2 linked regions of the Homo sapiens genome follow. The protein of the gene in region 1 interacts with the protein of each later gene in a biochemical or structural test. Each region holds a gene or a part of one and is shown on either strand. Other genes may lie near its edges.

Region 1 (7,021 bases):
ACACACCATACTCTGACATTTTCTACCCTTTTTCGGAAAAATGCCAGCCCTCTGCCTGGATGTCATGATCACACATGGTCACAACCTAATTTGGAAAACACCAGCATGAAAGACCTCTTTGCTAAACAGACAAGGGAGGTAAGGGAGGTGGGTGGCAAACCCCACCCATTTGCTTCTGCACATCATTTTTGTCTCTCCTGGGCCCCACTGTGTGCCTGGCTCTGAGCTGGATCCTGGGGACACCATCATGTGCCAGGGAGAGAGGCTTCCGGTGTAGACCAGGGTGTAGCGTGAACCACTAACCACTCTCCTATTAGTTTCTCTCGGCTGCCGTAACAAATCACCATATATTTGGTGGCTTAGAATCTTACAGCTCTGGAGGCCAGAAGTCCAAAGTCAGTGTCACCAGGGTGAGACCAAGGGGTCTGCAGGCCCCGGGAGGAACACGTTTCTTGCCTCCTCCAGCTTCTGCTGACACTCCCTGGCTTGTGGCTGCATCGCTTTATCTTCAATGCCAGCATCCTCAGCTCTGTCTTCACGTGGCCTTCTCCTCTCTCTGCGTGTCTAGTCTCCCTCTGTCTCTCTCTTATAAGGACTCTTGAGATGGCATTCAGGGCCCACCTAAATAATCCAGGATAATGCCCCCATCTCAAGATGCTTAATTTAATCACATCTGCAAAGACCCTGTTTCTAATTTCTTTTTTTTTTTTTTTTAGATGGGCTCTCGCTCTGTCGCCCAGGCTGGAGTACAGTGGTGAAATCTCGGCTCACTGCAACCTCTGCCTCCCGGGTTCAAGCAATTTGCCTGCCTCAGCCTCCCAAGTAGCTGGGATTACAGGCATGCATCACCACGCCTGGCTAATTTTTGTATTTTTAGTAGAGACAGGGTTTCACCATGTTGGCCAGGCTGGTCTTGAACTCCTGACCTCAGGTGATCTGCTCTCCTCGGCCTCCCAAAGTGCTGGGATTACAGGCATAAGCCAACATGGCCAGCCTGCAAAGACCCTGTTTCTAAGTGATTTCCCCTTCTCAGGTGCCAGGGATTGAAACCTGGCTGTTTTGGAGGGCTATTTTATTTCTTGGCCCACCACAATCCTTTTTTTCTTTCTTTCTTTTTTTTTTTTTTTTTGAGATGGAGTCTTGCTCTGTTGTCCAGGATGGAGAGCAGTGGCATGATCTCAGCTCATTGCAACCTCTGCCTCCCCAGTTCAAGCGATTCTCCTGCCTCAGCCTCCTGAGTAGCTGTGATTACAGGTGCCCACCACCACGCCCAGCTAATTTTTTGTATTTTTAATAGAGACAGGGTTTCACTATGTTGGCCAGGCTGGTCTCGAACTCCCGATCTCTGGTGATCCACCCACCTCGGCCTCTCAAAGGCAGGGGATTACAGGCGTGAGCCACCGCTCCTGGCCCAACCTGAGTTTTTATAAGGTCATTCTGGATTCTTGGTGGAGAAAATTGGAAAAGGATGAGAGGAAGTGGGGAGAGAGCTGGGTGGCTGTTTGTCACCAAAGTGAGAGGTGACAGTGGCTCAGACAGCTGTGACAGCAGAGACAGATGCAAGAGGTTTCTGGAGGTGCAACTGACAGGCCATGGTTCGTGATGGGAAGATGACACCAAAAAGGGGCTTCCAGTCAGTACATCAGCCAGAGCCGGGAAGACGGCGAGTTTGGTTTGGGGCACAAATTTTTAAAAAGCCTCCAGGGACATCCACAGAAGCCTTGCTAGGGAGCTGCCCCATTTGGCCTGGAGCCTGCCCTCTTCCTCTTCTCCCATGTGGCCGCCACCCAGGGCTTGGCCAGAGCAGATCTCGGGTGGCAGCTGAGCCTGGTGAGGACACTGGGATGCTCTTGCTATTTCCCTGCCCCTTTTTCTCTGGGGCTGTGGGTGTAACTGTTCCTCCCACAGGCAGGACAGAATCCGAGATGAGAAGGTGGGACCCATAAGGGGCTTCCCACTCTGGCTGTGCCTCATGGAGAGGGTAACATTAAAAGATGGAGGACTGAGACCGGGCGCAGTGGCTCCTGTCTGTAATCCCAGAAATTTGGGAGGCCAAGGTGGGAGGATCACTTGTGCCCAGGAGTTGGATACTAGCCTGGGCAACAGGTTCTACAAACAACAACAACAAAAACAAAAACAGCTGGGCGTGGTGGCTCATGCCTGTAATCCCAGCACTTTGGGAGGCCAAGGTGGGCGGATCACCTGAGGTCAAGAGTTCAAGACCAGCCTGGCCAACATGGCAAAACCCCATCTCTACTAAAAATAAAAATAAAATAAAAAATTAGCCGGGCATGGTAGTGCACGCCTGTAATTGCAGCTACTCAGAGGCTGGGGCAGGGAGAATTGCTTGAACCCAGGAGGTGGAGGTTGTAATGAGCCAAGATTGCGCCACGGCACTCCAGCCTGGGCGACAGAGCAAGACTCCGCCTCAAAACAAACAAACAAACAACAACAAAAAAAAAAAAAAAAAAACAGCCAGGTATGGTGGCACACACCTGTAGTCCCAGCTACTCAGGAGGCTGAGGCGGGAGGATCACCTGAGCCCAGGAGGTCAAGGGTGCAGTGAGCCGTGATCATGCCACTACATGTAACCTGGGTGACAGAGCAAGACCTCATCTCAAAAAAGAAAAAGAAAAAGAAAAAGGAGAAAGAGGAGAAGGAGCTGGAAGAGGAGAGGAAAGAGAAAGAACTGTTATTTTCATCTCTCTCGTTGCCCAGGCTGGAGTGCAGAGGTGCCACCTTGCCTTACTGCAACCTCCACCTCCCGGGCTCAGGTGATCCTCCCACTTCAGCCTCCCCAGTAGCTGGGACCACAGGCGGGCACCATCATGCCGGGCTAATTTTTTTTTTTTTACTTTTTGTAGAGAAAGGATTTCCCCGTGTTTCCCAGGCTGGTCTGGAACTCCTGGCCTAAAGTGATCCGCCTGCTTCAGCCTACCAAAGTGATGGGATTACAGGTGTGAGTCGCAGTGCCTGGCCTTTTTTCTTAAAAAAAAAAACACAACATAGGAGTTGCCCCTTTAAGACAGAAAAGAACCTCATCCACCCATCAGTAAGAGGCCCCAAGCTTCTTGCTGTGAGTCAGGGAGGCTTCTGAAGGGCCTCAAGCCACATCTTGCTCTTGCTCTGGCAGAACTCCCAGCCCTAAGCTCCTGATTCCCAGGCTCCTGACTCCTGAGGAGAAAGGGTAAGAACTTTCCAGACACACACACACACACGCACGCACACACACCTGAGGAAACAAACTAGCTCATCTTCTCAATTAAGCTTGAGTTGATTTTAAGCTTCAAAAACAGTTTAGTTATATTACATAAGTCAGGAAACAATGGTAGGGCTGAAAAATGATAGCTTGTTTGTTTTTTAAATAATGATGGCTCATGCCTGTAATCCCAGCACCTTAGGAGACTGAGGAAGGAGGATCACTGGAGCCCAGGATTTCAAGACCAGCCTGGGCAACATAGAGAGACTTCATCTCTACCAAAAAACAAAATTAGCAGGTCATGGTGGCGTGCACCTGTAGTCCCAGCTACTGAGGAGGCTGAGGTGGGAGGACGGCTTGAACCCAGGAGGGTCGAGGCTGCAGCGAGCTGTGACTGTACCACTCTAGCCTGGGTGACAGAGCTAGACCTTGTCTCAAAAAGAAAAAAAAAAAGTTTTATAATTGAGGTAAATCATTCAGCATTAAGTGCTGGCTTTCTCTTAAAGAGACGACATATCCACCAATATCAAAAACAGCCTCAAAGCTGGGCGTGGCGGCTCACACCTGTAATCCCAGCACTTTGTGGGGCTGAGGTGGGTGGATCACTTGTGGTCAGGAGTTCGAGACCAGCCTGGCCAACATGGTAAAACCCCATCTCTACTAAAAATACAAAAATTAGTCGAGCGTTTTAGCACATGCCTGTAATTCCAGCTAGTTGGGAGGCTGAGGGAGGAGAATCACTTGAACCCGGGAGGTGGAGGTTGCAGTGAGCAGGGATCACATCAATGCACTCCAGCCTGGGTGACAGACCAGATTCTATCTCAAAAAAAAAAAAAGAAAAGAAAAAAAAAATTTTTTTAAAAGCAGCACTGACCCATGCAGACAACGAGTCAAGGGTTTTATATGCATTAACTCGTTTGACCATCCTAGTAGCCTGTGAGGTTGGTTACTGCCATTACCTCTCATTTTACAGATGAGGCAACTGAGGCACAGAGAGGCCAAGTACCTTGGCCAGGGCCACTGAGCATGGAAGTGGCAGGACCACGGGTCTAACCCCAAATCTGTCTTGGGAACTGTGAGACTCTGAAAGAGGCTACGTGTGCCCACGGTGTTAGGAGAGCCAGTCTTCCTATTTGTTGTCCACTGCAGGCAAGAGGGATTTTCTTCTCTTCTCTTTTCTTTCTCTCTTTCTCTCTCTCTCTCTCTCTCTCTTTCTCTTTCTTTTTGATACAGAGTCTTGTTCTGTTGCCCAGGCTGGGGTGCAGTAGTATGATCTTGGCTCACTGCAAACTCCACCTTCTGGGTTCAAGCGATTCTCCTGCCTCAGCCTCCCCAGTAGCTGGGACTACAGGCGCCTGCCACCACGCCTGGCTAATTTTTTGTATTTTTAGTAGAGACAAGGTCTCACCGTGTTAGCCAGGATGGTCTCAATCTCCTAACCTTGTGATCCACCCGCCTCAGCCTCCCAAAGTGCTGAGATTACACGTGTGGGCCACCGCGCCCGGCCCACGCCTGGCTAATTTTTTTATTTTTAGTAGAGATGGGGTTTCGTCATGTTGGCCAGGCTGGTCTCGAACTCCTGACCTCAGGTGATCCGCCCACCTCGGCCTCCCAAAATGCTGGAATTACAGGTGTGAGCCACCACGCCCGGCCCAAGAGGGATTTTATAAAGTGATTTTCGACAGCTCTTCCTGAACCCCTGACACAGCTCAAGGACTTGTGTGGTTCTGTCCTCTAGGCTTTTCTGTCAAGCGAGTCCCTGGGCACGTGCTAGGGCACTCAGCAAGCAGGACAGCCAAGGCCAGGGAGCCACCCCAGTGACAGATCACTAACTCGGCGGGGGGCAGACAGAGAACTCGTCCCTGAGGTGACATGTGAGCCCCACGTGTGCCCTGTCAGACAAGGTGGCCTTGCTGAGAGCAGGAGGGGCAAGTGCGTGGAGCCCAAAGAGGAAAACCTGAAGAAACACCAGGCGCTCCCAGACGAGAGGGTGTGGCTGGTCGGGGTTGGGCCCCGAGATGGAAACACGTTTTCTGGGCCTGGAGTTTCTATCCTGTGGGGTCATCTCTAAGAAAATGAATCCCAGATAATGAATACAAAATTGCCCAGCCTCTCCTGGGTTTTTTTTTTTTTTTTTTTTTTTGTGAGACGGAGTCTCCCTCTGTCACCCAGGCTGGAGTGCAGTGGCACGATCTCGGTTCACTGCAACCTCCGCCTCCCTGGTTCAAGCGATTCTTCTGCCTCAGCCCCCCGAGTAGCTGGGACTACGGGCACGCGCCGCCATGCCCAGCTAATTTTTGTATTTTTAGTAGAGACAGAGTTTCACTCTGTTGGCTAGGATGGTCTTGAACTCCTGACCTCGTGATCCACCCACCTCAGCCTCCCAAAGTGTGTGTTTACAGGCGTGAGCCACCAGGCCCAGCCTTTCTCCTGGGGTCTTGAAAGAGGCCCTGAAGGTTAAGCTTCATCAGCTTCCTGTAAAATGTGCCCCTGAACAGGACAGGGTGTTACTGAGTTGCCAAATACCTATTAAAATGTTAGATACACGCACATACCCAGAAACATACACACAGCCGGACACACATACACACACACACACACACACACACACACACACACACACACACGAATACACTCTGAGCACAGCATTTGTTATGTTTTGAATAAATGACTAACTAAACATCCATTACTACTACTCCCAATAAAAACACTTATTGCAGCTGGTCACAGTGGCTCACACCTGTAATCCCAGCACGTTGGGAGGCTGAGGCGGGTGGATTACCTGAGGTCAGGAGGTCTAGACCAGCCTGGCTAACATAGCAAAACCTCGTTTCTACTAAAAATACAAAAATTAGCCAGGCGTGGTGGCTCACACGTGTAATCCCAGCTACTCAGGAGGCTGAGGCAGAGTTGCTTGAACCTGGGAAGTGGAGGTTCCAGTGAGCTGAGATCATGCCACTGCACTCCAGCCTGGGCAACAGAGATAGACTCCGTCTCAAAAAATAAAACAAAACAAACCACTGTGTGCCAGGCACTGTTCCAAGGGCTTATTTAATTTTCATTACAACTCAATAAAGTAGATAGTACCATCATCCCCATTGTACAGAGTAGAAAAATGAGGCTTAGAGTGGTGAAGCAATTTCCTCAAGGTCACACAGCAGGAAGTGGACGCAGGCGCTGGGCTTGGAGTCTGAGGTCTGCACTATTCTAGTAGTGAACCCACTGTCTCAGGAAGCAGTGACCACATCAAACTGTCTCCCCCACACCTGGAGCTCAAATTCCAGAAGGGGCGACAGACACCAGAGCAATCAATAAGTAAACAACACTGTGGATTACAAAGTGTCCACACCAGCTTCCCTCTGGGGACAAGCTGGGCTCTCAGAGGGTGCCCCTGCTCCCACCTCCTTCATGGAGAATGTGAGTCACTCCCTCCACTCAGTTAGGTTGGCTCCTTGAACTTTCATCTCTAGCAAACATACTTTCCTCTCCCTTTCTAGTTGCTAAGTATAGGGGAAAACACAGCAAAACACAGGGACCTGGGGCCTGTGATTTTAAGGAGGCAAGCAGGGAAGTCCTCCCAGAGAAGGTGATGTTTGAAAAGGAGGTGAAAGAGGTCAGGGAGTGAGCACGTGATTCTGGGAACAGAGGTGGATCAGACATGGCCCCTCTCTGCAGGGAGCTACCAGCCTGGGGATGATGGAGTAGGGCAGTGGGGAACATGGGGTAAACAGAGGATCCCAATCCAGTCTGGCGAGGGCTGATGGAAGCAAATCTAGGGACTGCAGAAGCCCCCAGGGATATACCAAGGCAACCTGAGGGTGT
Region 2 (7,752 bases), on another chromosome or scaffold:
GTATTCCTAAATTCACTTAACTTTGTTTCCAGTGTGCTTCTCTAGAATGCCTGAGGATGCCCCAGTCCAGGGACTAGTATTACTTTGTCCAGAAATAAACCTCTAGTCTTCTATGGGAGTAAGGGGGTAGAGTTACTTAGAGGTGTTTCTCAAATAGCTTTCATGTAGTCCACTTCCAATTTCAGGGTGCGTGTTTCAGTGCCTTTTGAGAATTCTGCAGAGTGAATTGGGTTTTTCTGGTGTGCTAAGTCACATTCATTCACCTGTTTTCCAGCTTCTGAGTTTTATTGCTGTTACCTCCTGTCCCCATTTTTCCAATTTATTTTTATATCATTTTACTGTAGATTTAGTAGTTTTGGAAGGGAGTAAAATTAGATGAGGGTATTTAACCCACTATATTAACTACTTCATTCTTTAAACTTCCTTTTTTTTCTTTTGGCAGAGAGCCATTAGCAGCGTGAAATAATCTTACTAAGAATGATTCTTAGGCTGGGCATGGTGGCTTGTACCTGTAATCTCAGCACTTTGGGAGGCCAGGGCTGGAGGATGGCTTGAGCTCAGGAGTTTGAGACCAGCCTGGGCAACATAGTGAGTGAGACCTTGTCTCTACTAAAAGTAAAAAAATATTAGCCAGGCATGGTGGCGTGTGCCTGTAGTCTCAGCTATTTGAGAGGCTGAGGTGGGAGGATCGCTTGAGCCCAGGAGGTTGAGGCTGTAGTGAGCCGTGATTGTTCCACCACTCCAACCTGGGCAAAATTCATTTTGAGACCCTGTCTCAAAACAAAACAAACAAAAAACACCTCTTCGGAACCATGTTCTTTTCACATAATTTAAAATTAAATATACATAGATGTAATTTCGAATTGCAAACTATAACCTGTTTAATGCCTAACAGCACAGCTTCATTTAATTCACAATTTGTAACTTGTGAAAGCTTTCAGGGACCTGGCTTAAGTTGTCCTTTTTAGTTGTTGGTCTTTTTACAAATTATGTATCATAAAACACTTGCCCAGCAAAAATGTAACTAGTGTGGCTATGGCAAATTTGTTCTTCTTTGATATGTTAACTTATATGAATTAATGCAGTTTATCTTTTTTTTTTTTTGAGACGGAGTCTTGCTCTGTTGACCCGGCTGGAGTGTAGTGGTGCGATCTTGGCTCACTGCAACCTCCCTCTCCCGGGTTCAAGCGATTCCCGTCTCAGCCTCCAGAGCAGCTGGGATTACAGGTGCTGATCACCACGCCCGGCTAATTTTTTGTATTATTTTAGTAGAGACGGGGTTTCACTGTGTTATCCAGGATGGTCTCCATCTCCAGACCTCGTGATCCACCCACTTTGGCCTCTCAAAATGCTGGGATTACAGGCGTGAGCCACCACACCAGGCAATGCAGTTTATCTTTATGCAGTTGACCTTGAAGCATTTAGGTTTACTTTAGCCACTAAGAGAAATAGGTCTCCTTGGGTTCACAATGTAGTGAATAAACAATTTTGAGTTCAGCAGGGCCCTGAGGCTGCTCCTGAACTCTGCATGAAGTCATGGAGGTTACTGTTTTAAGTAAAGAGCCAAGAGTTAAGGACTAAGAGAAGCCCCCTATTATTCTGAAAACTTGGATGTGTGCGCTGGATGAGACAGCGGTTGCAGTCCCCATTGATAGTTTTTTCCCCCTGTCATTCTAGGCTAAGGAGTTAGGACTTAACCAGTTCCAGTTCCAGGCTAATGGAAAATTGTCATTTTACTGGGGGTTATGTGGTGGCCAAAGTTGTTAATCATTGTTCCCCATGGGGTAGATACAGTGAGAGCTTCAGTAAAGCCTTTCCTCTAAAAGCCCACTATTTTAAGGTAACTTGGGATTACTGAACTATCTCCTTACCCCGATGAATCCTAACTTGAGTTGACTGAGGTGTTTTATCATTAAACATTAGTTTTACTGAAACTAATTTAAAAGGAAGCCTTAACTTTCATATCAAACAGCTATGGTAAACTGAGTAAGAACTCTGTACGAAGTCGCTATTAAAATGTTTTTATCTTGCTACCAGGATATGGATGTAAAATGCTAATAACTATTACACAACCTATAATAGTTACAGGTTACAATAGGGATAATAACACTTTAACCCACAAAGACTAGCTTAGTCCTACTACTTATCTATGAATAATGCATGTAGTCAATAACACTGGAAGGGATAGAGCATTATAAACTTATAATTCAGAGATGAGAAATGGTGCCAGTAATTTAAAAGTATTTCAGGTCTCATAATGCTAAAACAGGGTGTAGGTATGCCCTACAATTACAGAGAACTCAGTCGGGCTTGAGGAGAACAGCCTCACTTAATTGTAGTTTTCCTGTCGGTGTAAGGTGCCGGCGTTTCTTCATGTGGGAGGAGACTGAAATTCTAAAGGTTGTGTGGTTAGTAAAATTAGTCTGTGACCTCGGGAAACTAATGAGTCTTTGGGGCCTCAGCGATCTTCATGTTAAGGAATATTTTAGCCAGGAATTGCTTCATTTTCAATTCTTGTTTAGGGCGCTCTTAGGAAAAAGGACGCGTACGCTGCACAGAAAGTAAACAATAGAGCAGAAAGAAGAATCCGAAGGTCATTAATCTTAAAATAACCAACCCTCTGGAGCCAACTTATTTCTCTCTTTAAATTGCGGAATGAGCCCCATCCCCCTGCTGGATTAAACCGCAGAGGCCCAGGCCTCCCACCGGGTGTCCGCTGCATGAACCAGTCGCATGCCTGTTTCCTTCTCGAAACCCTCACAGAAAGACCCAACACACTCTAGGAAATAAACCGTCAACGTCAGGAGACGCTCAGAACCCTCTTCCCACACCCGGTGGTCCTCGCCCAGAGCATATTTCGCCTCCAGACCCCAGGATCCGGGAAATGGAACAAAACTCCCCGGCGGCGGCACTCACGCACTTTCCGGCACGCCGGAGCCGCAAAAGCCTCGACCGCTACGACTCCTCTGTCCGTCTACTGCGAAGCGGGGTGGCGTTGGGGGAGGTGGGCAACCTGTCAGTAAAGGGGGCGGGGCGCCGGCCGGAAGAGCCTCCGCGCGGCTGCGCTCTTTTCCTGGAGCTCAAGTGGGCGGGGCCTGTCGTCCGGGCAACCCGGGAGCGTTTGTCCACACAATTTCTGCTCCGACTCTGCGGACTACTGCAGTGGAGCTTGACTCTTAATGGTGAGCAAGGCAAATGAGGCAGACAGGTGGAGGGGCGACCACTGATTCTGCTTCACCAGTGTTAAATAATGTAATCAAGAGCCAGTCATATTTTACAGCGAAGCGGGTCGGTTTGGGAAATAACTCATACCTTGGGGTGGGTCGGCCCTCTTCTCAGCAATGGCTTTCCTTACCTGGACCAGGCGGACAGGTAGGAGTCCCAAACCAGTTTCTGCAAACGGGAGATGGTCAAAGCTGTCACACGGTATCCTGATCTCGAATGTTGCTAAGCTTGAAAATTGGTCCCAACCTAGTAACTTTCAGTAGTGATAGACGTTCCCACTAAATTTTCTTATTGCAACTTGGCGGAAATGTTTTAGTACTTCTCCAGCAGTTAATTAAAAGCTAATGCAATTTACTCTGCTTTGAAAAAATATTTTATGTCGTCTTTTGTGGGAATATGAATTGTTTTGTGATTCAAGGTTCTCATCCTGCATTAGTTAAATATGATAAGGCTTCTCATTTTGTTTTTCTGCACTCCTCAACTGCCATGTTTTCAGCAAGGAGACAGGCCAACATGTAGCTATGAGAGTATCTCTGATTTTCTTAAATGTGGTTTCCATCAAGACATTTTCTATAATTAAAACCAGAGGAAGTGGAGAATGTAATTACTTATTTAATTCATTAATTAAGGGAAAAATGTGGAGTGCATTCTTTGTACTTGGCACTGGGCTAGAAGCCAAGAATACCAAGAAGAACATGACGACAACTCTGCTTATAGGATACAGATTAAACAAATTAATTACAATACAGCTTTACAACTGTAACAATTGAAGCATCTAAAATGGGGTAACACACAGTTGGAAATGATGAAATTTCAGTGAGGGGAAACAAGGGAAGGAGAGTGGTGCTTTTCAACCTGTTTTAAAGTATAAATACGAGTTTTCCACATATGGTGGGAAGAAATAGGGAGTGGAGGCCTGGCGCGGTGGCTCACCCCTGTAATCCCAGCACTTTGGGAGGCCGAGGCGGGCAGATCACGATGTCAGGAGTTCGAGACCAGCCTGGTCAACATGGTGAAACCCAGTCTCTACTAAAAATACAAAAATTAGCCGGGCGTGTTGGCGCGCACCTGTAATTCCAGCTACTCAGGGGGCTGAAGCAAGAGAATCGCTTGAACCTGGGAGGCGGAGGTTGCAGTGAGCCGAGATTGTGCCACTGCACTCCAGCCTGGGTGACAGAGCGAGACTCCGTCTCAAAAAAAAAAGAGAAAAAAAGAAATAGGGAGTGGAGAGCATTCCTGGCGGAATGCAAATGGACCTTAAGTCAATTTATAATTGCTAATAAATTGGGGGAACAGTAAGCACTTACTTGTTACCTTCCAATTTGTTACCTGAGTTTCTTCTTCTTCTTAGATCCTTCTCCCAATGTTTCTCAAAGTGTGGCCCATGGAACATTTATTTCTAATGCACCCGGAGTACTTGTTAAAAATGCAGATTCCAGGAACCCACTCAACTCCAAATCTACTGTATTAGTTTCCTAAGTCTGCCAAGTAAGGAATTGCCACAAACTGAGTGGTTAAAGAAAAGAAATTTATTGTCTCGTAGTTCTGGAGACTAGAAGTCCAAGATCAAAGTGTCAGCAGGTCTGTGATACCTCTGAGGGCCTTAGGGAGAGATCTGTTCAGACCTTTCCTGGCTTCTAGTAGTTTCTTGGTTTGTGGCAACAAAACTTCATTCTTCACATGGCATTCTCCATCTGAGTATATTAAAATTATTATTATATAAGGACACAAATCATATTGGATTAGGGGCCCACCCTATTCAGTATGGCTTCATCTTAATTTAACTAATAAAATCAGCAGTGACCCTGTCTCCAATTAGATCAAATTCTGAAGTACTGGGGATCAGAATTTCAACGTATGAATTTTTTTTCTTTTTTTTTTTTCTTTTTGAGACTGTCTCGCTTTGTCACCTAGGCTGCAATGCAGTGTCACCATCATGGCTTATCGAAGTCTCAGCCTCCCTGGTTCAAGCAATCTTCCCAACTCAGCCTCCTGAATAGCTGGGAGTACAAGGCACGTGCCACCACACCCAGCTAATTTTTAAATTTTTTTAGACAGGGTCTTGCTTTGTTGCCCAGGCTGCCCTCAAACTCCTGGGCTCAAGTGATTCTCCCACTTTGACCTCCCAAAATGCTGGGATTACAGGAGTAAGCCAGTGCACCCAGCCAACATATGATTTTTTTTTTTTTTTTTTTTTTTGAGGCAGAGTTTCGCTCTGTTGCCCAGGCTGGAATGCAATGGCGCGATCTCGGCTTACTGAAACCTCTGCCTCCCGGGTTCAAGCGATTCTCCTTCAAGCGATTCTCCTGCCTCAGCCTCCCGAGTAGCTGGGATTACAGGTGCATGCCACCACGCCCAGCTAATTTTTGTATTTTTAGTAGAAACGAGGTGTCACCATGTTGGCCAGGCTGGTCTTGACCTCAGGTGATCCCCCTGCCTCGGCCTCCCAAAGTGCTGGGATTACAGCTGTGAGCCACCGCACCCGGACAACATGTAATTTTTTGAGCAATACAATTCAGCCCATAACATCTACTAAACCACAGTGTAGGAAGAGAAGTGAGCATACACACGTTTAGTCCATAAATATGCATTTCTAACAAGCTTCCCATATGATTCTTATGCCCTCTGAACTTTGAGAACTACTTCACTACATAGTGGCTATTATGACATATAGGAGAAATGAGGATATGTACTTACCCCAAACCTGATTTACATTAAAAGCACAAGTGAGAAGTGACAATTTGCCCCTCTTTAAAATATGGCTAATTGAGAACTGGAGCAATGCTATTTACATATTCAGCTGTTTAGTACTTATTTCACGATGGAAGTATGTTAACTATTAATTGATAGAAGCTATGATAAAAATAGAATCTATTTGTAAAAATTATATGGCAGCAAAGTCTCTACTTTTCTATCTCCAGTGCCTCAGATTGCCTTGTGTGTAAATCATTAATTAATATCTGCCGAGTGAATTAGTGTAATATATGCACTCTTCAAGAAGATGGAATCTACTGATATGTGTTAAACTTCAGTTTTACACAGTATAATCTTATGGGTTGAACTAATATTTCCCATGTATAACTCTTCAAATATGTAAAGTGTCTTATGTTCACATGATCTCCTATAAATTCCTTACCAGAAATCTGATAAACACATGAGCCTAATCAGGAAAGTATAAGTGATATTATTGTAACTGTGAGTCTTTTTTGAAATCCTGTGCTTTCCAAAATAATTTCCAGAAAAGAATAGATCTGCCTTAAAACACATTGCTGAATAGAATCTTCATTTTATCATAGCTTTACCTGCTTTATTTATTTATTTATTTGTTTATTTTTTGAGTCTTGCTCTGTCACCCAGACTGGAGTGCAGTGGTGCGATGTTGGCTTACTGCAGCTCCGCCTCCCAGGTTCAAGCGACTCTCCTGCCTCAGCCTCCCAAGTAGCTGGGACTACAGACACATGCCACCATGCCCGGCCAATTTTCTGTATTTTTAGTAGAGACGGGGTTTCACCGTGTTAGCCAGGATGGCCTCCATCTCCTGACCCCGTGATCCACCTTCCTCAGCCGCCCAAAGTCCTGGGATTACAGGTGTGAGCCACCACACCCAGCCGCCTGTTTTATTTATTTATTCATTTTTTGGAAATGCGGTCTCGCTTGGCTGCCCAGGCTGAGTGTCATGGCTCGCTGCAGCCTTGACCTCCCGGGCTCAAGTGATCTTCCCACCTCAGCCTCCCAAGTAGCTGGGACCACACGCATGTGCTTGGCTAATTTTTAAAATTTTTTGTAGAGACGGGGTCTTCCTGTGTTGCCCGGGCTGATCTTGAACTCTTGGGTTCAGGTGATCCTCCCGCCTTGGCCTCCGCGAATGCTATTACAGGAGTGAGCCACCGTGTGAGGCTACTTTGCGTGCTTTAAATAACTGATTCCCTTTCTATAAAAATCATCAATCTAACTTTACGGAAAGGTTATTTCTTTATGAGATCATTCCCACACTTGCAAATTTGACATTAGTGCCAATAATTGGTCAATGATTTATTGTCCTTTGAACCCTTTAAACTAGTGCCTTCTTGACTAGTACTCTGTTTAGTAACAGGGCATTTCATTAAACATGGATCATTGATTGTCCTAAGAAACAGTGTAAAATCTACATACAAAAAAATGGTTCAGTAGGTGAACTTAGTTTTTCTATACTTATTTGTAGTTTTGTCTGAACTCTTTTTAAAAAAGCATTTTATTTTGGGATAATTTTAGATTTGCAAGGAAAGTTACAAAGATGGTACAGAGAGTTCCCTTATGCCCTTTACCAAGCTTCTTCTAATTTTAACATCTTACATAATCATGATACTTTTGTATCAGAATTGTCTTTAAAATTGATCAATTCTTTTGTTTTCCAACTTTTAGGGTCCCAAAGCAAAAAAGGTATGTAGAATTTTTTTCAAAATAGATAGTTGTATAATCACTTACAGTGTATGAACAGAATATTTACAGAATTATAAAATATTTTTATAGTTTTAGTTTGTAGAGTTT

Evidence for each region. Proteins that work in one complex are often made in the same cells at the same time.
Region 2: the proteins of ETFB (region 1) and ETFRF1 form a complex in vitro, tested with the Homo sapiens proteins (one study listed by BioGRID).

The regions. Positions count from the first base shown.
Region 1 is NC_000019.10:51,356,379-51,363,399, forward strand, and holds part of ETFB (electron transfer flavoprotein subunit beta), read right to left. Parts: intron 1-7,021. UniProt on the Homo sapiens protein: Heterodimeric electron transfer flavoprotein that accepts electrons from several mitochondrial dehydrogenases, including acyl-CoA dehydrogenases, glutaryl-CoA and sarcosine dehydrogenase.
Region 2 is NC_000012.12:25,190,506-25,198,257, reverse strand, and holds the start of ETFRF1 (electron transfer flavoprotein regulatory factor 1), read right to left. Parts: upstream 3,022-7,752; 5' UTR 2,921-3,021; exon of another isoform or gene 2,917-2,920; intron 2,905-2,916; exon of another isoform or gene 1-2,904. Other genes in the region: DNAI7 (dynein axonemal intermediate chain 7), read left to right, coding at 3,196-3,372, 7,627-7,644. UniProt on the Homo sapiens protein: Acts as a regulator of the electron transfer flavoprotein by promoting the removal of flavin from the ETF holoenzyme (composed of ETFA and ETFB).